7 linked regions of the Homo sapiens genome follow. The protein of the gene in region 1 purifies or fractionates together with the protein of each later gene. This does not show direct contact. Each region holds a gene or a part of one and is shown in the gene's direction. Other genes may lie near its edges.

What was found.
Region 2: the proteins of PSKH2 (region 1) and MTR purify together in Homo sapiens (affinity purification with mass spectrometry; one large-scale study listed by BioGRID and IntAct). This does not show direct contact.
Region 3: the proteins of PSKH2 (region 1) and COPG2 purify together in Homo sapiens (affinity purification with mass spectrometry; one large-scale study listed by BioGRID and IntAct). This does not show direct contact.
Region 4: the proteins of PSKH2 (region 1) and MMS19 purify together in Homo sapiens (affinity purification with mass spectrometry; one large-scale study listed by BioGRID and IntAct). This does not show direct contact.
Region 5: the proteins of PSKH2 (region 1) and HK1 purify together in Homo sapiens (affinity purification with mass spectrometry; one large-scale study listed by BioGRID and IntAct). This does not show direct contact.
Region 6: the proteins of PSKH2 (region 1) and IQGAP3 purify together in Homo sapiens (affinity purification with mass spectrometry; one large-scale study listed by BioGRID and IntAct). This does not show direct contact.
Region 7: the proteins of PSKH2 (region 1) and PPP2R1B purify together in Homo sapiens (affinity purification with mass spectrometry; one large-scale study listed by BioGRID and IntAct). This does not show direct contact.

The regions. Positions count from the first base shown.
Region 1 is NC_000008.11:86,046,609-86,049,638, reverse strand, and holds the end of PSKH2 (serine/threonine-protein kinase H2), read left to right. Parts: intron 1-871; coding exon 872-1,177; 3' UTR 1,178-2,530; downstream 2,531-3,030.
Region 2 is NC_000001.11:236,801,792-236,805,291, forward strand, and holds part of MTR (methionine synthase), read left to right. Parts: intron 1-1,636; coding exon 1,637-1,851; intron 1,852-3,500. UniProt on the Homo sapiens protein: Catalyzes the transfer of a methyl group from methylcob(III)alamin (MeCbl) to homocysteine, yielding enzyme-bound cob(I)alamin and methionine in the cytosol. MeCbl is an active form of cobalamin (vitamin B12) used as a cofactor for methionine biosynthesis.
Region 3 is NC_000007.14:130,658,749-130,662,248, reverse strand, and holds part of COPG2 (coatomer subunit gamma-2), read left to right. Parts: intron 1-3,500. UniProt on the Homo sapiens protein: The coatomer is a cytosolic protein complex that binds to dilysine motifs and reversibly associates with Golgi non-clathrin-coated vesicles, which further mediate biosynthetic protein transport from the ER, via the Golgi up to the trans Golgi network.
Region 4 is NC_000010.11:97,457,824-97,460,422, reverse strand, and holds the end of MMS19 (MMS19 nucleotide excision repair protein homolog), read left to right. Parts: intron 1-190; coding exon 191-377; intron 378-681; coding exon 682-764; intron 765-896; coding exon 897-1,061; intron 1,062-1,140; coding exon 1,141-1,200; intron 1,201-1,522; coding exon 1,523-1,623; intron 1,624-1,703; coding exon 1,704-1,731; 3' UTR 1,732-2,099; downstream 2,100-2,599. UniProt on the Homo sapiens protein: Key component of the cytosolic iron-sulfur protein assembly (CIA) complex, a multiprotein complex that mediates the incorporation of iron-sulfur cluster into apoproteins specifically involved in DNA metabolism and genomic integrity.
Region 5 is NC_000010.11:69,398,847-69,402,382, forward strand, and holds the end of HK1 (hexokinase-1), read left to right. Parts: intron 1-2,144; coding exon 2,145-2,289; 3' UTR 2,290-3,036; downstream 3,037-3,536. UniProt on the Homo sapiens protein: Catalyzes the phosphorylation of various hexoses, such as D-glucose, D-glucosamine, D-fructose, D-mannose and 2-deoxy-D-glucose, to hexose 6-phosphate (D-glucose 6-phosphate, D-glucosamine 6-phosphate, D-fructose 6-phosphate, D-mannose 6-phosphate and 2-deoxy-D-glucose 6-phosphate, respectively).
Region 6 is NC_000001.11:156,569,766-156,573,775, reverse strand, and holds the start of IQGAP3 (ras GTPase-activating-like protein IQGAP3), read left to right. Parts: upstream 1-1,210; 5' UTR 1,211-1,246; coding exon 1,247-1,283; coding exon of another isoform or gene 1,284-1,298; intron 1,299-4,010.
Region 7 is NC_000011.10:111,756,390-111,759,889, reverse strand, and holds part of PPP2R1B (serine/threonine-protein phosphatase 2A 65 kDa regulatory subunit A beta isoform), read left to right. Parts: coding exon 1-86; intron 87-3,500. UniProt on the Homo sapiens protein: The PR65 subunit of protein phosphatase 2A serves as a scaffolding molecule to coordinate the assembly of the catalytic subunit and a variable regulatory B subunit.

The DNA.
Region 1 (3,030 bases):
CCTCCCCTCTTCTCTCTCTCTGCCTCTCCCCTCCCCTCTTCGCTCTCTCTCTCTCTCTCTCTCCTCTTTCTTTCTTTTTAGAGACAGGGTCTCACTCTGTCACCCAGGCTGGAGTGTGGTGCTGCCATCATAGCTCACTGCAGCCTTGAATGCCTGGGCTGAAGGAATCCTCCCACCTCAGCTTCCTGAGTAGTTGGGATTACAGACATGTGCCACTGTGCCTGGCTAATTTTTACATTTTTTGTAGAGATGGGGTTTTGCTGTGTTGTCCAGGCTGGTCTCAAACTCCTGGACTCAAACGATCCTTCTTCCTCAACCTCCCAAAGTGCTGGGATTACAAACGTGAGCTACTGTGCCTGGCTCAGAGTAAGCTTTCAAAGGGAGGGAAAAGTTGATGATTTCTCAATCCATTCCACTTTCCCCTTCTACTCCTTCTCATTCTTGAAGTCACAGGAACTCTGTGAGATGACCACAGTGTTGCAAACACTGACCTGATGTTGACATAGTTCGTAAAAGACAGCTGCTTTGCCTTGTCCAGCTCCCGTAAATGCAGTATGGGAACTCGTATTGATAACAACAGCACAATGGACAGATTTCTGAGAAGGTTTTCTCACTCATTGGACAAAGAGTTTGGAAGAGAATTTCTGTGTTTGTGTTTGTCTTTTTCTTCTGTGAAAGTTTTTTCTTTTCCTCCCTCAAAAGTGGTTTAGTTCCTCTATATATGTAATGACACAGTATTAAAACTGCTTATTTGAAAAAGTTTTTTGGATTCGATTGGCATTGATCTATGTAATTAAGAATAGGATTCTTTGTGTTTGTGTATATTTCCATTTTATTTATTTTATTCTAACTTATTTATTTTTATTCTCAGCCTTGGCCAAGCATTTCCCACTTGGCGAAGGACTTTATAGACAAACTACTGATTTTGGAGGCTGGTCATCGCATGTCAGCTGGCCAGGCCCTGGACCATCCCTGGGTGATCACCATGGCTGCAGGGTCTTCCATGAAGAATCTCCAGAGGGCCATATCCCGAAACCTCATGCAGAGGGCCTCTCCCCACTCTCAGAGTCCTGGATCTGCACAGTCTTCTAAGTCACATTATTCTCACAAATCCAGGCATATGTGGAGCAAGAGAAACTTAAGGATAGTAGAATCGCCACTGTCTGCGCTTTTGTAAGCAGATGACCTCTAAAACTATTTTTGCCTATTTTAGGACCATTTCATCATGATTAGGGCACCCTCAAGCTCCAAAGACACGGGACTCCATGGTATTGTTGGATACTATTGATCTTGACTTTTAACATTTTCTTGTTCTATAATTTTTCCTATACCTGTATTCATTTTCCCAAAATATACTGCTGCAAATGATTAACAGTTTAGTAAATACTAGCTATGTTTAGATAACTGGAAACAATAAATAGATAAGAAAATCTTTAAAGTATGTAATGGATTAAATAAAATACAATACTATAGAAATAAGGGATGTATATGTGAAGGCATGGTGAACCAGAGACATAGCAGGAATAGTTAGATATGGGGAATATATGTATTTATCCTGAAATTACTGATTTTTATTTAAGCCCCAGTATACAGTGTTAACTAGGTAACACTCGAAGTAGTTATAAATGTCTGTTAATTTCATATTTAGTCTGCAAATATTTATGAAAAATTATTAATTATGGGGCCTATAAAGAACTATAAGATATAATTTCAATCTATCAGAAACTTTTAGTCTAATTGGGGCATTATTCACGGGAAAAATAGAGATTTTTAAGAATCATAAAATAGTGATTTTTTTCTAATGTTAGCATTCATCAACCACCAGGGTTTACAAAAAAATATAAACATCTTGCTTCTTATCACTACTGTCAACTCTTTTCAGTATGTACTGGTTTCTTTTAGAATTATTTAATCAAATATCTTGATGACTTTAAACACTCACCATGAAATAATTATAGGTAATGCAATAAAGGGGTAAGTTTCAAAACTTAGTTCTCTAGGCAAGTCACATATGGCCTGATCTCTTATATGGTAAATTTTTGTAAAATGATATAAAGATTGAAATATTATTAATCATATCTGTGAGTCACTCATATGTGTGGGTAAACATAGTAAATAAATGATTAATTAGTTGATATTGCTTATTTTATTCAGAAAAATAATAAAATGTTAGAATGACATTTACTGTAACTTTAAAATCAGTCTCAATTTTTTCATTTTATTTTTCTCTTTTAGGCTATATAGATGGAACAGCTATATATCTGATATATAGATAAGAATATGTAATTAGTGACACAACTATTTTCTTTTTATGTTGTAATGCTGTATCACATGATATATGACAGACCTGGATTAATTCCTTTAATATAGAAAGACACTTACAAATTCATTAGATAAATAATAGAAAAATGGGCAAATATTTTACCAGGTGGTTTATAAACATATAGATGGCTAATGAGTAAATGAAAAAAATGCTTCATTTCATTTGTAATTTACAAAATGAAAATAAAAATGACAAAGAAAATGAAAATTTAAAAGGCAAAGAATTTTTTTTTACCTATTAGATCAAAACAGTTTTAAACTTGGATACTACATATGGTAGAAGGTTGCAGGCAAGCAGATACTCTCATGCCCTGCAGAGAGAGAGGAGTGCAATTTGGTGCCACCTCATGGCCTTGGGGGACAGTTTGGTAGTAATATCTACTCACATTAAAAATGCATTGACCTTTGATCTAATTGCATCATTGGTAGCAATTTGTCCTACATATATTCTTGCCAAAGTGTGTATAAAACATTGTGCATAAGGTATAAAACATTGTTATTATATTAACAGTCATAAATAAATGCCTATTAGTAGGAGAATGCCTTAAAGCATGTTACCTTTAAGCAAAGGTCTACTATGTAGCCATTAAAAATAATGCGGTAGATCTGTAAGTTTTGTTATATAACATGTTATTGTGTTAAATGAATAAGCAAAAAGCACAGAAGTATTACAGTATGTATTTGTGTGAAAAAAATATGTTCAGAAGC
Region 2 (3,500 bases), on another chromosome or scaffold:
ATGCTATAGGGAGTTGTTGAAGGTGTTTGAGCAGGGGAAGCAACTGGTTTAAAATTGTTGTATAGGAAGATAAATCTGGTAGTGGTGCACAGGATGGATTAGAACACAGGGCGACTGGGTATGGTGGTGATCTCTTACCTTTGTAGGACACTTGATAGTTTACAAGGCACTTCCATAGATGTATGATCTCATTTGCATGGATGCAAACTAGAGCTCAGAGAGGATTGGTGATAGCTGGCCTGTGTAGTAAGGGGTTGAAGAAAGGGGTTGTCACAGGGCGAGGAAGGTGGGACCATTGTGCATGGCATTTTAGAGGCCAAATCTATAAGGCTTGGGATCTAAGTAGATGTTGGTTATCAGGGAGAATAAGGAGTCAGATAATACTGAGATTTTATGGTTAGTCTTCTGGGAAGGGTGTTGCCATTTACAGAAATCAGGAGATGAGACAGAGAATATATGCAAGTTTGGTTTTGAATATTAGATTGAGGGGCAGGTGGGTAGTTGAGGTAGCCATATCCAGTGGACAGTTTAAAAGCTGGGTCTAAGATTGGGGCCAGGTGTTTTTGATATTTAGAAGGTCATTGGTGACTTTAGAAAGTAATTTCAGGAGAGTGGTGGAGGAGGAAGCCATGTCAGAAGGATAAGAAATCGGTGGTTGCTGAGGTGGAACTGTGGGAGTGGGAAGGGCTAGATGAGGGAGCAGTGGGAGGTGTTGGTCATCATGCGCTTTTCCTTAGGTACAGAAAGAAGGGAAATAGAGTGAGCCAGACTGCAAGAGGATTTTGAGGTGGAGAGGGTGTGAGTTTGAGGAGCCTCCAACAGAAAACTTCTTTGTACGGGATTAGGTGAAATCACTTGTGGAGTGAGGAGGAAAAGGATTTGGTGCTAAAAAAAAAAGTAGAAATTGGGACAGTAGATGTTGGAAGTATTGAGGGAGGTCAAGAAAAGGTGAACCAAAGGAGGCTGAACGTTGCAAGTTTTCAGTGACTCCAGTCAGCATAGTTTTGTGGCTTTCCAGTAGGTCGTAGAAACCAGAAAGCAGGATTAGAAGGAGTAAGCATTGGGCCCTTTTCTGGACTGGGAATTAGAAGTCAAGGAGCATGGGGAGAGTTGAGAAGTTCAAGGGTGTTAGCCAGTTATTATTTCATAGTTGGGCAGAGGTGAGTAAAACTCTGTTTGCAGGCCATTATTAGTTCTGGCAATAGGTGAGGGAGAAGGTCAAAGCTAATATTTTAAAGAATAGTTTGGAATTATTGATGGTTTTCAATTATCTCTGCTAAATCATTTTATTTAGGGAGTATCTGCACAGAATTAACAAGGAAAGAGAGCAAAGTCTTGTATCACTGGCCCATTATTGCCTGTTTTCCTCATCTGTAAAACAGGAGTAGTGTAGCCTACCTTCACCTTGGTTTCGTGCTTCACCAGGAATTTTGTGCTGTGTGCAATCTTGTATTAGGCATTGTCACGACTTAATGACCTTTTTGGGCAGCGTTTTCCTATATAGAGTTATGAGTGCATCTTTTATAAACTCCATTTACTCCTTATTGGAGATTATTATAAATTTCTCTAAAGCTCCTCCCTCACACATCTTTTTCACCTTTCATTCTTTGAAGTCAAACTTTCACTTTCTTTAAAGAAGGTCTGAAGAAAACCCTGCGGGATGAGATCAATGCCATTCTGCAGAAGAGGATTATGGTGCTGGATGGAGGGATGGGGACCATGATCCAGCGGGAGAAGCTAAACGAAGAACACTTCCGAGGTCAGGAATTTAAAGATCATGCCAGGCCGCTGAAAGGCAACAATGACATTTTAAGTATAACTCAGCCTGATGTCATTTACCAAATCCATAAGGTAAAGTATTCCCAGGTTCCCATGTGTATTCATTCTGTTATTCTGCAAGCTGTTTCATGTATCAGGGCAGGCTGCTATGCCGAGTGCTCCGGAGAATAAAGAATAAAGAGGCAATTTATTCAGAAAGCAGGTTTTGGACATCAAATAAAAGTTATGTACTGTGTTAAGCACTCAGGATAAGGGAATGAGGTAGGTAGGTTTTCTGCCCTTGAGGCATGTAAACTCTAGTGAAAAACTATGAGAATCTGGACAAATAAGGGTTTTCACACTAGTGAGTGTGAGAAAACTATCTTATTTAAGTTACTGCAACAGCCCTGATGAAGAAATGCTTAAAGGTGGTTGGTATCTTAGCTTTGGCTGCTGTATTACCTGTTACCATAGACTGGGTTATACAAGCACACATTTATTTCTCACAGTTCTGGAAGCTGGAAGTCCACAGTCAAAGTGCCAGCAGATCCTGTGTCTGGTGAGGGCCCTCTTGTTTATAGATAGCTGTCTTTGTATCTACATGACGGAGAGCAGAGAGAGAACAAAAAACTCTCATATTTGTGCTTATAAGGGCACTGCTGTGTTCTCAATGTTTGTGTCCCCATGAGATTCATATGTAAAATCCTAATGCCTAGTGTGATGGTATTAGGAGGTGCCCTTATAAAAGAGGCTCAAGGGCGCTTATTCACCCCTTCCACCATGTGAAGATACAGTGAGAAGATGCTGTCTATGAACTAGAAAGCTGGCGCTCACCCATTATAAAATTCTAAGATACAATTATCATTCATGTATTTTGTATTTTAGTCTAGTTTTCTATACTTGGAGTTTAAAAAATTAAATTGGGATTACATTGCTTCGTACTGTCTTATAATTTGCATTTTTTACTTATATACCATGAGTATTAAATATTCTGGAACATGGTTTTAATAACTTCATAATCTATTCCATGTATATATCATCATTTATTTAACTAATCTCCTTATTCCTAGGCATTAAGTTTATTTTCAGTTTTTCTTGTTCTTTTAAAAAAAACTTAAATTAGTTCTTATAAAACAAATCTCGTAGATAATACATTCCCATTTGACCATACTCTAAATTGCTATTTTTTCCCCAGAGATAACCACTGATATTAGTTGGTGTGTGTCGTCCCAGATTCCTTTGTTAGGCATTTTCATATATGTGTATGTGTGTATACGTGAGTGAATATATATATGTAGAAAACTCATAGTACTCTGTGTATGTTTTTTTAATTTAATGGTGTCATGCTTTACGTATCATTCTATTTTTTTTTTTACTTAACAATACTTTGCAGAATCTTTCCATGTCAGTATTTGTAGATATACACAGTTTTTTTGCTGTCACATGGCATGTAATAAAGTGGATATATTTTAGTTTATTTAGCTGTTTCCCTATGGGTAGATATTTCGGATGTTTGTTATTGTTACTATAAATGTGCGTATCTTGGTTTTTATCTCCCAGTGCTTCTGCAACCATTGTCCATCGACTTAAGAGGGGTTGGGTTTATTCAGTATTGGAAAATCAAGGGGGTCAAGGGATTCCAGGTTGCTAGTCAGATTGAGGTTGAGATGATCCAAGGAGTGGAGCCAGGGAGACGAGTTTCGAAGAGAGCACAAAGGAGCATCAAGATCTTCAGGGTTTCA
Region 3 (3,500 bases), on another chromosome or scaffold:
GAGAGGTTTTAGGAGTAGATCTTCAGGAAGATCAGCAGTCCCCTGTAAGGCAGCTGTTTCAGGGGAGGCCATTATATACTCTACAGGCAAAGGAAGACTAATTTCCTCACATATGGGATAAAGGACTGATGCTTCTACTAGCAGAAGATGTCACAGAATTTAGGAGTTCGGGGTACTTGGCTTCATCAGAGTCTGTCCATATATCTTCATTCTACTTTTCAGGGCCCCATTCCTTGCCAGTCAAGGTCCTAACTTTAACATAAGATGTCCTGCAAGAGTGTGAATTCAATTTGCATTGTAACTGAGCCACCTGCAGGATATACTTTGTAGAAGTCTCAGCCCTGTAGCCACATGATATAAGGCTTTCTATGAAGGCAGTTATAGATTTCTGGCCCCCTTACCCAGATTTGAGTAGTGCTTTTAAAACTCCGAGCTCATCATTTTCTTTTCCTGAGAAAAGAATTATCCAGTGTACCTAGAAACAACTAATTAACCCATTATACAACTTATTTTTACTAAAATCTTCTATGGCATCCACTAGTTAGTTACCCAAGGCTTTGTCTTCTGTAGGTCCTTGTCTGCAGATGATGATTTTAAATATTTTGCCACTGCATGCTGTGGACTACTAGTAGCCCCTTTACCATTGGAAACTGGTCATTAATACCTTCAATCAAATCAGAGAAGCAACTTCAGGTTCATATCTTTAAGGACTTCTTTTAACCACTTCCTGTAGCAGAAATTCAGGGTTCAGACAGGGAAACAGAACCACTATGAGTATTGTGGAATTAGGTGTTTATTAGAGGAATTAGACTAGAAAACTAGGCAGGTTGAGCTGCTGGAGTAGGGTTCAGAGGGAGGCTGTTACATAAGTCATGGAAGGCTATTGCCTCTTTTGTGGCTTTGTTTTTGCAGCCAGGTGTCTTCCCAAGGCTGCTGTTACTCAGAGGGCTGGCAGTTGGGAAGAAAAGCTGGACATGTAGTGGAGAAAAGGAAGCAGAGTAAGAAAGAAAAAGGATGAGGACAAACTTTTGAAGCCTGTAGCACAGAGGTTTATATTAAGAAAAGAAGATATGAAATTGTCTTCTAGGAAATGGATTAGGGAAATGTAGGATTGTTCGATAGGACTAATAGCCTGTTGAAGTTAGTGCTTATGAATTTAAAGTATTACCAATGTTTTTCTCCAGCTACATGGTGAATGTTTTTCTCCAGCTACAGCCTGCAGGTTAAAGCACTGAAGGCTTAGAGATAGGATTTAATCAGGATTGAAGTTTTGCCAGGTTAGTGAACAGAGGGAGAAGCAAAAAAGTTGAGTGGTTGGAACATCGACTGTGGAATCTTCGGTTAGGAGGGAAGCAAGAACGGGCTGACAGGGACAGCAAAAAGTTGGTAGAACCAGTGGATTGTAGGTCAAGAGAGAGTGAAAGAAGTTTGGAGTCAGGAGTGTGAGTGCTTGGGAATGAAATTAGAAAGGGATGCTGTTACTGATAGGCTGTGGCAGTGGGTGATCATTGTAGGGAGGATGGCATCATTGGAGAAGAGGAGGTCGAGGAATGAAGAGGTCAGAGGTTTAGAGATACCATCTGTATGGATATTAAAATCACCAATACTTATTACTGGGATTGCACTGGAGAGACAGTGAACAAGGTACTGGTATTTTTTAAAAATAAGGGAAGTGACCTGGGGTTTAATGGACAACCAGCAATGGTAGCAGGTGACATAGTATAAAGGCATAAGCTTCCCCACCTGTAGGCCTGGTGGTATGAGGGTTATGGGAGAGAAAACAGCTGCTATTTCAGAGGGTTGCAGGAGGATCCCTGGGAGAGAACCAGGTTTCAGTTAAAGAAAAAGATGGGAACATTCAGAGAAGAGTTTGAGAATATAGGGGATTTTGCTGATGAAAGTGTCAGAGAATATAATGGCGCTGATTAGAAGGGTGGAAAATGGAGTCAGACGAGGTGCTGTACCCAGATGCAAGGAATAAGTCTGCAGGTTATGAATAATGACCAGAGTATTTTAGGCTTTTTGTAGTGACTGAGGTAAGTAGCCATGTACAGCATGATGTGATTAGTTTTAATGATTCCTTAGGCAAAAATACGGAATTGAGGGAGTGATTGTTTTGGGACAAAGAGAGGTAGAGATTTTGCCAGAAATACGTGGAGCTCCTTCCGTTACCAGCATTCCTTTACCAGAAGGTAATTACTGTCTTGAAGTTGGTATTCTTCTATCGTTGTTTATATTAATATATGAGGATTACATAGTTTACATCTGTAATCAATACTTTGCATTTTTGTGTGTCTTAAAATATAAAAATAACATCTTCTTCTTTTGCAATGTTGTTGTTGTTGTTTTTGAGTTGTCGCCCAGGCTGAAGTGCAGTGGCGCGATCTTGGCTCACTGCAGCCTCCGCCTCCCGGGTTTGAGCGATTCTCCTGCCTCAGCCTCTGGAGTAGCTGGGACTGTGGGCACGTGCCACCATGCCTGTCTAATTTTTGTATTTTTAGTAGAGACAGGGTTTCATCATGTTGGCCAGGATGGTCTCAATTTCCTGACCTCTTTATCTGCCCGCCTTGGCCTCCCAAAGTACTGGGATTATAGGCCTGAGCCACCACACCCAGCCTGCAGTGTTTATAATTAATACATTTTTAAGATTTACTGGCTTGTTACATGTACTTCTACTTTATTTACTTTCACTACTATATGGAATTCCAATATGTGAATATACAGTAATTCTATTTATCCATTCTCCCATTGGTAGATATAAGTTGTTCCCACATTTTACCTATTACAAATGATACTGCACATAATGTTTATGTACACAGTGAGACTTTTTCTGGAGTAGATACCTACAAGTGGAATTTCTAGATAATGCTTGTTTGTTCGTTTTTTTTTTTTTTGAGACGGAGTCTTGCTCTGTCGCCCAGGCTGGAGTGCAATGGCATGATCTCGGCTCACTGCAACCTTTGCCTCCCAGGTTCACGCCATTCTCCTGCCTCAGCCTCCTGAGTAGCTGGGACTACAGGCACCCGCCACCACACCTGGATAATTTTTTGTATTTTTAGTAGAGACGGGGTTTCACTGTGTTAGCCAGGATGGTCTCGATCTGCTGACCTTGTGATCCGCCCGTCTCAGCCTCCCAAAGTGCTGGGATTGCAGGCGTAAGCTACCGCGCCCGGCCTAAGCATATTTTCATGTACTTATTTGCCATCTGTATATCTGCTTTGATGAAGTGTCTGTTAAAATTTGTTACCACTTAAAAAAATCAGGTTGTCGGCTGGGCCCGGTGGCTCACGCCTGTAATCTCAGCACTTTAGGAGGCTGAGGTGGGCAGATCATGAGGTCAGGAGTTTTAGACCAGCCTGGTCAACATAGTGAAACCCTGTCTCTACTAAAAATACAAAAAATTAGCTGGGTGTGCTGGCAGGCACCTGTAATCCCAGCTACTTGGGAGGCTGAGGTGGGAGAATCACTTGAACCCAGGAGGGGGAGATTGCAGTGAGCTG
Region 4 (2,599 bases), on another chromosome or scaffold:
ATGTTTGTATTTTTTGTAAGAACTGGGTTTGGCCATGTTGCCCAGACTCCTAGACTCAAGCAGTCCACCTGCCTTGGCCTCCCAAAGTGCTAGGATTACAGGCATGAGCCACCACACCCGGCCCCATCCTTATCTTTGGCACTTAAGATTCTTCTTCCCTGATGTACCTCAAAGGCTCTTTTTTCTCCAGCTCATGGGCCTCCTGAGTGACCCAGAATTAGGTCCAGCAGCAGCTGATGGCTTCTCTCTGCTCATGTCTGACTGCACTGATGTGCTGACTCGTGCTGGCCATGCCGAAGTGCGGATCATGTTCCGCCAGCGGTTCTTCACAGATAATGTGCCTGCTTTGGTCCAGGGCTTCCATGCTGCTCCCCAAGGTGAGGAGTCTGAAAGAAGGTCCCCACATATACACATCTCTCCTTTGCTTGGCCACATTCCCTAAGATAATTTAGGGCCCGCTTGCTTCTTTAGAGCTATATTGTGGTCTGTGCCTAGAAGACTAAACTTCTAGATTCTTGTCCCACTTCTTCCTTTCATGGGCGTATCTTGCTTATTCTGAGCGTGAAGGGCTCTTTCACCCGTTTGTAGGCTGATGTCTCAGCCTCACCACAGATTGGAATTGATTTCTCAAGCTATATATCTAAGTCCAATTTCTCCCCTAAGCCTTTCCATTTTTTACAGATGTGAAGCCAAACTACTTGAAGGGTCTTTCTCATGTACTTAACAGGCTGCCCAAGCCTGTACTCTTGCCAGAGCTGCCCACGGTAAGTCCCACAGGCAGAGCTTCTAAGCAAAGGACAAAGCTATTCTTCCCCAGATGGGGCTAGAAAGGGGAGGGAACAAGAACCAGGATCTTCATGATGTGGCCATCCCCTACCTTGCCCATTGCCCCTTAGCTTCTTTCCTTGCTGCTGGAGGCCCTGTCCTGCCCTGACTGTGTGGTGCAGCTCTCCACCCTCAGCTGCCTTCAGCCTCTTCTACTGGAAGCACCCCAAGTCATGAGTCTTCACGTGGACACCCTCGTCACCAAGTTTCTGAACCTCAGCTCTAGCCCTTCCATGGTGCGTTGAGCCCCAGCAACTCTTAGGCACCAGCATCTCTCCCTGGGCATGCTCTCACCTCCTTGTGGTTGTGTTCCAGGCTGTCCGGATCGCCGCACTGCAGTGCATGCATGCTCTCACTCGCCTGCCCACCCCTGTGGTAAGTACCTCAGGTGTCCTTCCCTGGCCTGGGAACATCTCAAGAGACACATAAGTACCTTTTTGCCTTAGTCAGGTGGGCTTGGCCACCCTGGTGTGTAATTGAGATCTGAATTACAAGGTACAGATCTTGTAATTCTGGGCCCAAGGATTCTTTTCCTTGGGCCCAGAAGGTAACAGAAAGGCCATCCTGCCACTTAACATCCCTTGGAATCACTAAAGATGTTTTGCTTTCCTCAGAATATTAGTTGTACAGAATCAAAAAAGCGGTACTTTCAGTTGCCTTGGATGAGCAAGGTTGATTATATCCTCTGACTCCACAGCTGCTGCCGTACAAACCACAGGTGATTCGGGCCTTAGCCAAACCCCTGGATGACAAGAAGAGACTGGTGCGCAAGGAAGCAGTGTCAGCCAGAGGGGAGTGGTGAGTTTCTAGGTCGTGGGGAGAGATGGGACCAAGATGAGCCTCATCACTAATGCTGCCAACTTTCTTTTTGCCTACAGGTTTCTGTTGGGGAGCCCTGGCAGCTGAGCCCTCAGTCCTGGCCTAGACTGTTCTGACAATCTAACCTGGGATTACTAACTGTTGAGCCATCTTCCCCAAAGCAGGGAAACCACTGGTCTCTGACTGCCTTTCCCACAGACACAGCACAAATGCTAGGCCTCTGTTGCATGGCTGTACAAAGAACATAAGAGTCCATATTTCTAGTGGATTTGTAAAATAAGTGTGTGTGAGACACTTGCGTTTGAAGAAAGATCTAGGGTCCTGGGTCTCTTGCATTTATATGTCAGAAAAGGGGCGATATGCTGCTGAGGGGTGAGTGCATATGAGTGTGGCCCTGAGGACCAGGGCTGGCAGATGTTGTCTACCTGCTGAAGAATAAAGATTTCTTTTGGTAATGGGGCTGTCAGATATTTCCCCCACCCCACATATGCCTCATATAACCAGAGGCATCACTGGAATAACAATGACAGGGATTGGCCAAAAATTTTTCAGGGTAACCAGGACAGTAGCACATGCCTGTAACCCCAACACTTCAGGAGGCTGAGGCAGGCGGATCACTTGAGGCTAGGAGTTTGAGACTAGCCCTGGCAGTATAGCAAGAACCCATCTCTACAAATAATTAAAAAAAAAAAAAAATTAAGCTGGGCATGGTGGCTGACGCCTGTAATCCCAGCATTTTGGGAGGCCGAGGCGCATGGATCAGTGGAGGTCAGGAGTTCAAGACCAGACTGGCCAACATGGTGAAACCCCATCTCCACTAAAAATACAAAAATTAGCCAGGTGTGGTGGCATACGCCTTTAATCACAGCTACTTGGGAGGCTGAGACACAAGAATCACTTGAGCCGGGCGCGGTGGCTCACGCCTGTAAAGCTTGTAATCCCAGCACTTTGGGAG
Region 5 (3,536 bases), on another chromosome or scaffold:
TGGGATGCGCAGAGCTTGCTGGGATCCCTTTGGGTTAGGGGGTATCAGGGTGTGGTTTACGCTGGGGAAATGCCCTGCGGGAGCCCAGCCAGGCTGAAGGCTGTGCGTTCAGGAGCTGGGGATTGTCTAGGACAAGGTAATGAACAGTTTGTAGGGTTTGACTGGGATCCTTAGGGAGACAGAGAAGTGGCTTCACTTGGCCAGCTCACACCAGTGGCATGATGTGACCCTCACCCCACTCCTCCTGGTCCCCCTTAGGTGGGGGCTAGGCAGTGGGAGAGGAGGTGAGGGTGGGCGTGGGCTCACTCATAAGCCTGGTGAGCTGTAGCCAGGCCAGAGGCTCTGTTGGGTAAGTGGGGAGAGGATATTAAGAAAGGGGAGGAGCTGGGTGCAGTGGTTCACACCTGTAATCCAGCACTTTGGGAGGCCTAGGTGGGAGGACTGCTTCAGTCCAGGAGTTTGAGACCAGCCTAGGCAACATAGTGAGACCTTGTCTGTACAAAAAAATTTTGAAAATTAGCCAGGGATGGTGGTGAATGCCTGTAGTCCCAGCTACTCGGGAGGCTGAGGGAAGAGGATTGCTTGAGCCTGGGAGGTGGAGGTTGCAGTGAGCCCAGATCACGCCACTGTACTCCAGCCTGGGCAACAGAGTGAGACCCTATTTCAAAAAATAAAATAGGAAAGGAGGATAGCCACTCTCTTGTTCATCTGCTGAATCAGTTTGCTAAGACTTGGAAGGGCGGGAGCGGTTTGGGCCCTGGGCTTCATGGCAGGGAGGGGTAGGGAGTGGCCTCCCTCTGGTCAGGCATCTGACCCCCCATGCCAGAGAAGGACATGTGATTGCACTTGCTGTGTGATTGTGATCCACCGCATGTCTCACCTTATGAATAGGGTGACCATATTATTTATTTATTGTCTACACTAGGGTACTCTTGCCAGTCAAGAGTGCTAATAATTATTACTCTGGGACTGTAGGCAAACTAGGACCATCCCAGATAAATGAGGCCATAGTGTCACCCTACTTATAAGCAACCTCACCCGACTCAGTGTAGACATTACCTGCTTACCTCATGGCCGTGGCTTGGGGTGGAACCATCTGTCTTGCTCCATCCTCACCTCTGTCTCTCCCCCTTAATAGCTGTCCTTGCCATCAGCTGAGGCAGCACACAGGAGTGGTTTAGAGCTAGGCTTTGGAGCCACATACTCTTGGATTTAACCCTGGCACCGTCACTTAGAATCTGTGTGCAATTGCTTAATCCCTGCAAAATCTCATCTTCCTCATGAGGTGGCAGCCACTGGCAGGACTAGAAATTAGAGCTGTAAAATATGGGGCACCTAGTAGGTCCTCAAACTCCTTGGCTCAAGTGATCCTCCCACCTTGGCCTCCCAAAGTGCTGGCATGAGCCACCGCACTCCGCCCACCTAATAGGTCCCCAACCAAGGACAGTGACTACTTTTGAGAGCCCCTCACCACAAGCATCTTCAGCCTGGCCCTGCCCTTCATTTTGAGCCCAACTTACAAGCATGTAGATTCAGCCTTTGTTCAGATACTATCTTCACTGGAAGGCATTCCTGTCTTTGGGGGCCAGGCTGTTGATGGTGGGGCGCTGGGGGTCTCAGGGTTGCAGCTGGAGATGGGTGATATTCATTCCTGCATAGCCTCCTGAACCGATCCAGTGCTTGGCTGGCTTGCACCTGCCTTAATGATCCATGTCAGCCCCTAACATCCTCCTTGGTTTTGAGGTCCCCCTGGAGCCTCAAGCTCCGATGTGGGTGTGTGTGTTATTCATGTCCTAGCCTTCATAAGCCATACAGAGCAGTTGTGTTTGGATTCGCAGTTGGGCCTCCCTGCTGAAAACTGTGACAATGGGATTGACCGTGGGCCCACTTTCCTCCCAGCCATTCTCAACTGGCCACAGCTGCTTCTAAGCAGCCTGCCTCCCAACCATGTTCACCCTCCTTGTTGTTGGGTTCAGAGTCTCTTTGACTTCCGATGCTTATGTCCTGATAAACCCATCACAAAGTCGAAGAATCCTAAGTCGAATCATCACCAGTCAGGGGGCTGTCTGTGCTTTGGTGTTTTCGGGTAGGCCCAGCGTCTCTCATCTTCCTCCAACTACCTTCTGTTTTCTCGTCCTTTTTAGCTTCTCCAGAATCATGCACCAGACGGTGAAGGAACTGTCACCAAAATGTAACGTGTCCTTCCTCCTGTCTGAGGATGGCAGCGGCAAGGGGGCCGCCCTCATCACGGCCGTGGGCGTGCGGTTACGCACAGAGGCAAGCAGCTAAGAGTCCGGGATCCCCAGCCTACTGCCTCTCCAGCACTTCTCTCTTCAAGCGGCGACCCCCTACCCTCCCAGCGAGTTGCGCTGGGAGACGCTGGCGCCAGGGCCTGCCGGCGCGGGGAGGAAAGCAAAATCCAACTAATGGTATATATTGTAGGGTACAGAATAGAGCGTGTGCTGTTGATAATATCTCTCACCCGGATCCCTCCTCACTTGCCCTGCCACTTTGCATGGTTTGATTTTGACCTGGTCCCCCACGTGTGAAGTGTAGTGGCATCCATTTCTAATGTATGCATTCATCCAACAGAGTTATTTATTGGCTGGAGATGGAAAATCACACCACCTGACAGGCCTTCTGGGCCTCCAAAGCCCATCCTTGGGGTTCCCCCTCCCTGTGTGAAATGTATTATCACCAGCAGACACTGCCGGGCCTCCCTCCCGGGGGCACTGCCTGAAGGCGAGTGTGGGCATAGCATTAGCTGCTTCCTCCCCTCCTGGCACCCACTGTGGCCTGGCATCGCATCGTGGTGTGTCAATGCCACAAAATCGTGTGTCCGTGGAACCAGTCCTAGCCGCGTGTGACAGTCTTGCATTCTGTTTGTCTCGTGGGGGGAGGTGGACAGTCCTGCGGAAATGTGTCTTGTCTCCATTTGGATAAAAGGAACCAACCAACAAACAATGCCATCACTGGAATTTCCCACCGCTTTGTGAGCCGTGTCGTATGACCTAGTAAACTTTGTACCAATTCAAAGACCCGAGTGATGCTTAATGGCTGGGGACGGGGGGACAGGCAGAGGGGGGTGCAGTTTCTTGGGATGTGGCAAAGACCAAACACTGGGGAGTTTTGTGGCCTTCTGGGCGGAGGAGTTTTTTTTTTTGAGATGGAGTCTTGCCCTGTCACCCAGGCTGGAGTGCAGTGGCACAATCTCAGCTCAGTGCAACCTCTGCCTCCCGAGTTCAAGTGATTCTCCTGCCTCAGCCTCCTGAGTAGTTGAGACTACAGGCGTGCATCCCCACACCCAGCTAATTTTTGTATTTTTAGTAGAGAAGGGGTTTCACCATGTTGGCCAGGCTGGTCTCCAACTCCTGACCTCAAGTGATCTGCCTGCCTTGGCCTCCTAAAGTGCTGGGATTATAGAACAAGGCCACTTGGCTTCCAGGCTGCTTGGGTTCAGTGAGAGGACTGCAACACTGGTCCCCTCTCTGCCATCCCCACCCGGATCCTGCCCTTCATCTTCCTCTCTGCCAACC
Region 6 (4,010 bases), on another chromosome or scaffold:
TTTTTTTTTTTGAGACGGCGTCTCACTCTGTCGCCCAGGCTGGAGTGCAGTGGCACAGTCTCAGCTCACTGCAACCTCTGCCTCCTGGGTTCAAGCGATTCTCCTGCCTCAGCCTCCGGAGTACCTGGGATTACAGGCATACCCCACCACGCCTGGCTAATATTTGTATTTTTACTAGAGATGGGGTTTCACCATGTTGGCCTGTCTGGTCTTGAACTCCTGACCTCAGTTAATCTGCCCGCCTCCGCCTCCCAAAGTGCTGGGATTACAGGTGTGAACCACCGTGCCTGGCCTAGTTCAGGCTCTTATTATCTCTCTTCTGTGCTACTGCAGTAGCCTTCCAACTGGTCTCTGCCCCTAGCCTCACCCCCTTCCAATCCCCTGCTATAAGATGGCTCTTTTTAAAGGACAAATCTGGCTCTGACCTATGTCTAAAGTGTTCCTTGGCTGGTGACTGCTCACCAGACCCCATGCCAGGGCCCTAGCATGGTGCCCAAGGTGCTACTGGACCTGGCCCTGTGCCTCCAGGATCCCTTCTGGCCTCTCCCTGGCTGAGCTTTGTTCTCCTCTAAAACTGAACCAAGTTTAAGTTCCCGAACTCACCTCCTCGTTCTTGCACATGCTGTCTCCACTGACTGCACTGCCTCTCTTCTTCAATCTGATGAATTCTCTTTCACTTCTCAACCCAAATCAGCTGTCACTTCCACCAGGACGTCTTCCCTGTCATTCGCTGCTCTTATTCACAGCAATGACCCCCTCCCTCTGTGCATCACCGACCTCTAATTTATTTGACTATATGTCTATCACTTGTGCCAGAACAGCAAACTCTTTTAGAGCATTCACTGCCCTCATACATCTCTGCATTCGCATCACCTAGCTTAGTGCATAGCGCCAAGTAGGCCCACAAGTTAGCCGGACTCGGGAACACATAGGAAGCAGAGTAGGGGTTAATGGGAATACTAGGTGGAGATGACAGAGGCAATGGCAGGGGCAGCAGCTAGAATAAGACTGTTAAGCAGAAAAGGAGCCTGGAAGGAACAAGACGAGGAACTGCTGTAAGGGGAGCGGTACTGCCCCGGCCTGGGGCGCCTCTTCTCCCAGCACCTGGGCGGCCCGGCTCCGCGGCCGGGAACTACAAATCCCAGGATTCTCAGCGGTGTGGACGGGAAGTGTCCTGTCTGGCGGTGCCGACGGTGAGGGGCGGTGGCCCAACGGCGGGAGATTCAAACCTGGAAGAAGGAGGAACATGGAGAGGAGAGCAGCGGGCCCAGGCTGGGCAGCCTGTGAGTGCGGAGAGGGTCAGAGAAGGGTCTCGCAGTGGTGCCGCTGGTCGGGGGCTTGGCTGTCCCGGGAGAGATTGGGGCGTGTGTCGGGCGTGAAGCCTGAGGGGCGAGGGCGGTGGGACTGCTCAGTGGGACGGGAATCCTCAGCCCGGGCGCCGTGGGCCCGAGTGGAACTGTGAGCGGCGCATTGTCCCCTGACTAATGTGCTGCGCTTTAAAGCTTACAAAGAACTTTCTTCCTATTTCCAAGTTCTGGGGTTCCGGAGTCGGGAGAATGTAGGTGATCCTAATGGCTCCTTGAAATTCAGCAGTTACTGCTGGCTACCAAACTTGCCCAGCGATGCCACCGGACAAGACGCCTCAAGGGATCTGGGGGACTCTTAGGCTTTGAGATGCCGCTTTCAGACAATGCCTGTCAAACAGGGGGTGAAATTACCCGGGAAGCTTGTTTGAGATGCAGATTCCTGGGACCTGTCCCAGAGCTTCAGTTCCAGAAGGTCTGGTTTGGGGCCCATAATCTGCATTTATAACAAGCACTGCTGTGCTTCTTCCCTCACCCCAGGTGATTGTGAGGAAGGTAGTCCCTGGGCCACATTTTCAAAGACACTGTTTTAGAGAGAGAGACTGGAGCTGGAAGGATGGGTGGGGCAGAAAGGTTCTATCTGATTTTCTGAATGAAAGGAAAACCTGCTCCTTCCACCACTCCCTTCCTTTCTATTAGGATTCAAAGAGCAAAGTCCATGTCCAGTCTTCTGTTAAAGGAAAACTAGTTCCAGACCTGAGAAGGACAGGAAAACTGTTTTTCGGTTTTTTATTTTTTTGAGACAGCATGTGTATGTACAAAATCCCTCCCATCGCCCACAGTCCTCAGTTCATAACTCTGAGATGATGTCATTCACTTACTGGTTTATTTTCCATGCTTAACAACCAACACTTGTTCCTTGTACACCCCCTTGGAGGAACTGATGGCTTTCCTGTGGTTGGCCAGTGTTTTCAAATCTGTATTTGGAGGGGTGTGTGTGTGTGTGCACGCATGTGTTTTAATTTACTTAACTGCTCATTCATATAAGCTCTGCCCTTCCCTGAATCATTGCAGAATATGCAATATAAGGAAATAGGATAACAACCGGGAATGACATTAAGTGCTGAGTCAAAGACAGATTGGCTAAGCTCTGCCTTTTTTCAAGCTCTCTGAGTTTATTTTCTTACTGTGTGTGTAGCTTTCTCTTACTCTTTCTGTTTGATTTTGTATTGTGTTTCTAAGGAGAATAGAGAGAGGGGAGAGAAGGGAGAAGGATTAAGGGAGACTGTAACTAAGGCAAATTATGATTGCTGTCTCACTTGAGGGATTCTCTATTCTTGAGTTTTGGAATCAGTACTCTGTATTTTATTTAGCTTGAAGATTCTTTTCCTCCTCGGGTGACCTATACCAAAAAGGATAGTGAAGATACCTTTGTGATCTTTTAAAATTTTCTTTGTCCTTCCACTTAATCCCAAGTGAGTGGCATGTTTCCCTCTGTTGGACTGCCTTTCCCTGTGTTCCGCCTATTTATTCCTTAAGATCTAGTTCATAGCTAGAATCCTTTGCTTCCTCTGCTGCTCCCATAGATTTTATGCATGGGCTATAATCATACTTATCATGTTAGATTAATTTATTCAGATGTTTTTCTCTTCTGATAATAATCTTTGGGCGCTGTGGTTCACGCCTGTAATCCCAGCACTTTGGGAGGCCAAGGCGGGAGGATCACTTGAGCCCAGGAGTCCAAGACCAGCCTGGGCAACATGGTGAGAACCAGTCTCAACAAAAAACGCAAGAATTAGCCAGACATGGTGGTGCGCACCTGTGGTCCCAGCTATTTGGTGGTGGGGGGGCTGAGGTGGGAAGATCACCTGAGCCCAGGAGGTCAAGGCTGCACTACTGCACTCCAGCCTGGGTGACAGAGTGACACCCTGTTTCAAAAACAAAACAAACCCACCAATATCTCTGTTGTCCAGGATGGAGTGCAGTGGCACGATCATGGCTAACCGCAGCCTAGACCTCCTGGGCTCAGGTCTAGGCCCAGTAGCTGGGAGTACAGGTTTGCACCATCACACCAGGCTAATTTGTGTATTTTTTGTCAAGACAGGGTCTCACCATGTTGCCCAGGCTGGTCTCAAACTTCTGGGCTCAAGCGATCCACCTACCTCAGCATCCAGAAGTACTGGGATTATAGGCATGAGCCACCATGCAGGCCTTTATCTCTGCATTTCTTAAGAGTAGGGGTCTGCTAGTCCAGTGCCTGGCATAAAGGAGGTATTGATGAATGAATGAATGAGTGAATGATGAATTCTGGTTGGTTCTATTACCTCACCTCTGAGAGAGTAACCAACGAGGATGACACAGGTCCAGTTCTTGGAGAACTCAGTCTAATTAGGGATAAGAAAAGGAGTTAAGTTTCAAGCCAAGGAAGGCTCTGGATGTCCCAGCTGGGAGGTACTGAGGGAAGTTCCATGAGTAGACTTGAGGAGGAAGAGGACAGGAAGATGGCTACAGAGGAAAGAGAAGTAATGCCTCCAGCACAGGAGGAGGCTGCCTATTAAAGGGTATCCTGGGAAGAGAAGGAGGGACACATGGGAGATGTTTCAGGTCTCTGAGCAGGGTTGCCTAAACAAGTCTGTTGAGAAGATGTTTCGGCTGGGCATGGTGGCGGCTCAAGCCTGTAATGCCAGCACTTTGGGAGGCCAAGGC
Region 7 (3,500 bases), on another chromosome or scaffold:
TGGGTGAATTTGCAAAAGTTTTGGAATTAGACAGTGTGAAAAGTGAAATTGTTCCACTGTTCACTAGTCTAGCTTCAGATGAACAGGTAAACTAACTCTTAGTATTTAAGGGACACAGATATGCTCCTTTCCTCTAAATTTTCAGAATTTCTTTGGGGAGTTTTAGTTTTCTTGTTAGGATTCTTTTTACAGAATTAGTGCTGATTCTGGCCTGGTTAAAGTGTAACATGCTTATCTCAATGTTCTTATGTTTCTTTCTTAACCAGACCATGATTTCTCTCTTACATTAGCAGCTGTTAAAAGAGTGGGGAGTCAGAGAGGAAATGGGAGCCATAATTAGAAAGGAAGACCAAAGCTGCATGGAGGGTAACATACCTTTGGGAATTGCTGGCTGTATTGTAATATGAGGGAGTAATGTTTCCTGGAATTTTTGACTTTTCAGATAAATAAGCTTAGAATGTGTTAGGAAAGCTATTTGACTCTCTGCTTCTTCTATAGTAGTGTATGGGATTACTTCACATAATCGTATTCAATTCTGAAGATCTAGATCTCTTTGGTGTAGAAATAACAATAAAACTAGCAAACATCCAAATGAAGTACTTAATTTTTCTCTGCCTTTAAGTAGTTATGTGTATTAAGTAATTCAGTCCTTACAACAGCCCCATGAGATAGCCCATTTTACACATTAGAAAACAAAGGCACAGAAAGTTTAAGTAACTTGCTGAAGTTTGCATAGTTAGCAGTAGTGGAGTCAGAATTTGAATCTAGGTGGTTTGGCTCCAGAATTTGTGCCCTTCACAGCTAGGCTGTCCCGCTTCTCTGTAATGGTGCTTAATAGGATCAGCTCCCAGAGTTCCTGGACTCTAGAATAGTCCTTTTGGGCTTTTAATTTGCATGTTGCCTGCCCTAAGATCGCTTCATGTGTACAGGACCACAAGCCCCAGGACACATATTAATGAGTCTCATTTTCAGATCCTAAATCTAAAGATCTAAATCCTACTTTGAAAATAATTTTAAAAATTATTAGAATTTTTATTCTAATAATAAATGTACAAAATGAATGTATAACTTAATGAACTATTAGAAGGTAATACCAACTTGTTAACGATCACCTATGATAGGAGACATCACTTTGACAGCCACTATCCCAGAATCCCTCCATGGATTCCCTTTCAAACACAATCTCTCTTTCCTCCTCCACTTGCCACTCCATTTCCTTAAGAGTAACATTATCCTGACTTTTATGGTAAGCGCAGCCTTTGTTTTCTTTGCACTTTTTCTTTTCTTTTCTTTTCTTTTTTTAAAAGGAGTCTCACTCTGTCACCAGGCTGGAGTGCAGTGGTGCAATCTCGGCTTTCTGCAACCTCTGCCTCCCGGGTTCAAGCAATTCTCCTGCCTCAGCCTCCCAAGAAGCTAGGACTACAGGCGCATGCCACCACGCCAAGCTAACTTTTGTATTTTTAGTAGAGACGGGGTTTCACCATGTTGACCAGGATGGTCTCCATCTCTTGACCTTGTGATCCGCCCACCTTGGCCTCCCAAAGTGCTGGGATTACAGGCGTGAGCCACCGTGCCCGGCCTTCTTTGCACTTTTATTACCTAAATGTTATAGTTTAAAACAGTGCTTTACAACAGAAATATAATGTAAGCTACCTGTTGATTTTAAGTTTTCTACTGGCCATGTTTTTATAAGAAAAAAGAAATAGGTGAAATTAACAATATTTGTATTCGACCAAAATTTTCCAAAATCTTATTATTTGAGTGTAAATAACGTGTACCAGCCACATTTCAAGTCTCAGCATGAGATGATGTTGTTAATAGGGTGGTAGTGAAGATGGAAAGGATTTGGATGTCAGTTTGGAAGTGGGATCAATAGGTTAGTATTATTGGATTGGATCAGTGGGAGAGGAATCAAGATCTCCTAGATTTTTTGCTTGAGCAACTGGGTGGATGATGGTGTCATCGTTAAGATAGAGAAAATTCTGGGAAGAGGAACAGGTGTAGGAGAGAAAACGAAGTTCTGGAAGAGAAGTAATTTTTTTTTTTTTTTTTTTGAGATGGAGTTTCACTCCTGTCGCCCAGGCTGGAGTACAATGGCATGATCCCAGCTCACTGCAACCCCTGCCTCCCGGGTTCAAGTGATTCTCCTGCCTCAGCTTCCTGAGTAGCTGGAATTACAGGCGCCTGCCACCATGACTGGCTAATTTTTTGTATTTTCAGTACAGATGGGGTTTCACTGTGTTGGGTAGGCTGGTCTCGAACTCCTGACCTTGTGATCTGTCCGCCTTGGCCTCCCAAAGTGCTGGGATTACAGGTGTGAGCCACTGCACCAGACCAGAGAAGTAATTTTTTAACAAATATGTATTAGCTTATATTTCAGTAGTTGATTAGCAGTCCCATGATTTAGCATCATTTTCGAAATTCAAAAATATCTGTGTAGTCACTACCAAGAACTTAGTCCTGTCTTTTTTAGCCTGTGCACCTGCATACAGAGGAATGTGTGTGTCTTTGGCATATAGTCAGTTATTGTTGATACACAGTTTCTAAGATTTGTAATATTTTGGAAGTTGGAGTCACTGTTATGTCTCTCAAGTATGTGTATACGTATATACATAACTGTTATTGTACACACTTAAAATTTTTTACCTATTTCTCCTGGGTGCTAATGTTTACATGTATTAAGATTCTACCTTATATATGTATAATACACAAATCTACAGTCTCAATTTCTAATTTCTCATTGATGTTTCTTTTTTTTCGGTGTTTTTTTTTTTTTGAGTTGGAGTTTTGCTCTGTCACCCAGGCTGGAGTGCAGTGGCGCGATCTCGGCTCACTGCAGCCTCTGCCTCCTGGGTTCAAGCAATTCTGCTGCCTCAGCCACCTGAGTAGCTGGGATTACAGGCACGTGCCACCATGCCTGGCTAATTTTTGTATTGTTAGTAGAGATGGGGTTTCACCATGTTGGCCAGGCTGGTGTTGAACTCTTGACCTCAGGTGATCCGCCTGCCTCGGCCTCCCAAAGTGCTGGGATTACAGGCATGAGCCACTGTGCCTGGCCCCTCACTGATTTGTCTTGTATATTTTCCACTTGTTCAAAGGACGTAGGTGTCACGTTGACATTGGCTGTTTACATTTGGAAAGTTGAGTTCATTAATCCCATACTTTTCTAATTTCTGTGTTTTTCTAGCCACAGCTTCCTCAAAGTTATTCTGTCCTTGATCTTCGACATTTAAATCCAACTGATTTTTGTTTTTGATTTCTAACTTTTAATTGTTCTGTGTATTTCTTTCCAAGTCATTATCTTATGCTGCCTACACTCCTGTTACTGCGACCCTGATCTGAGTTTTTTGAAAACTAAGCTTTCTAAGTGATTTCCTTTACTCTTACTCTTACCTTTGTCCTAATCTGTTATAAATAACTTGTACAAATATTGTTTTCATTTTTATCCCTCAACTTTCTGTTATAGTAAGGCTTTGAAGGCATCATTAAAATGTTTTTTT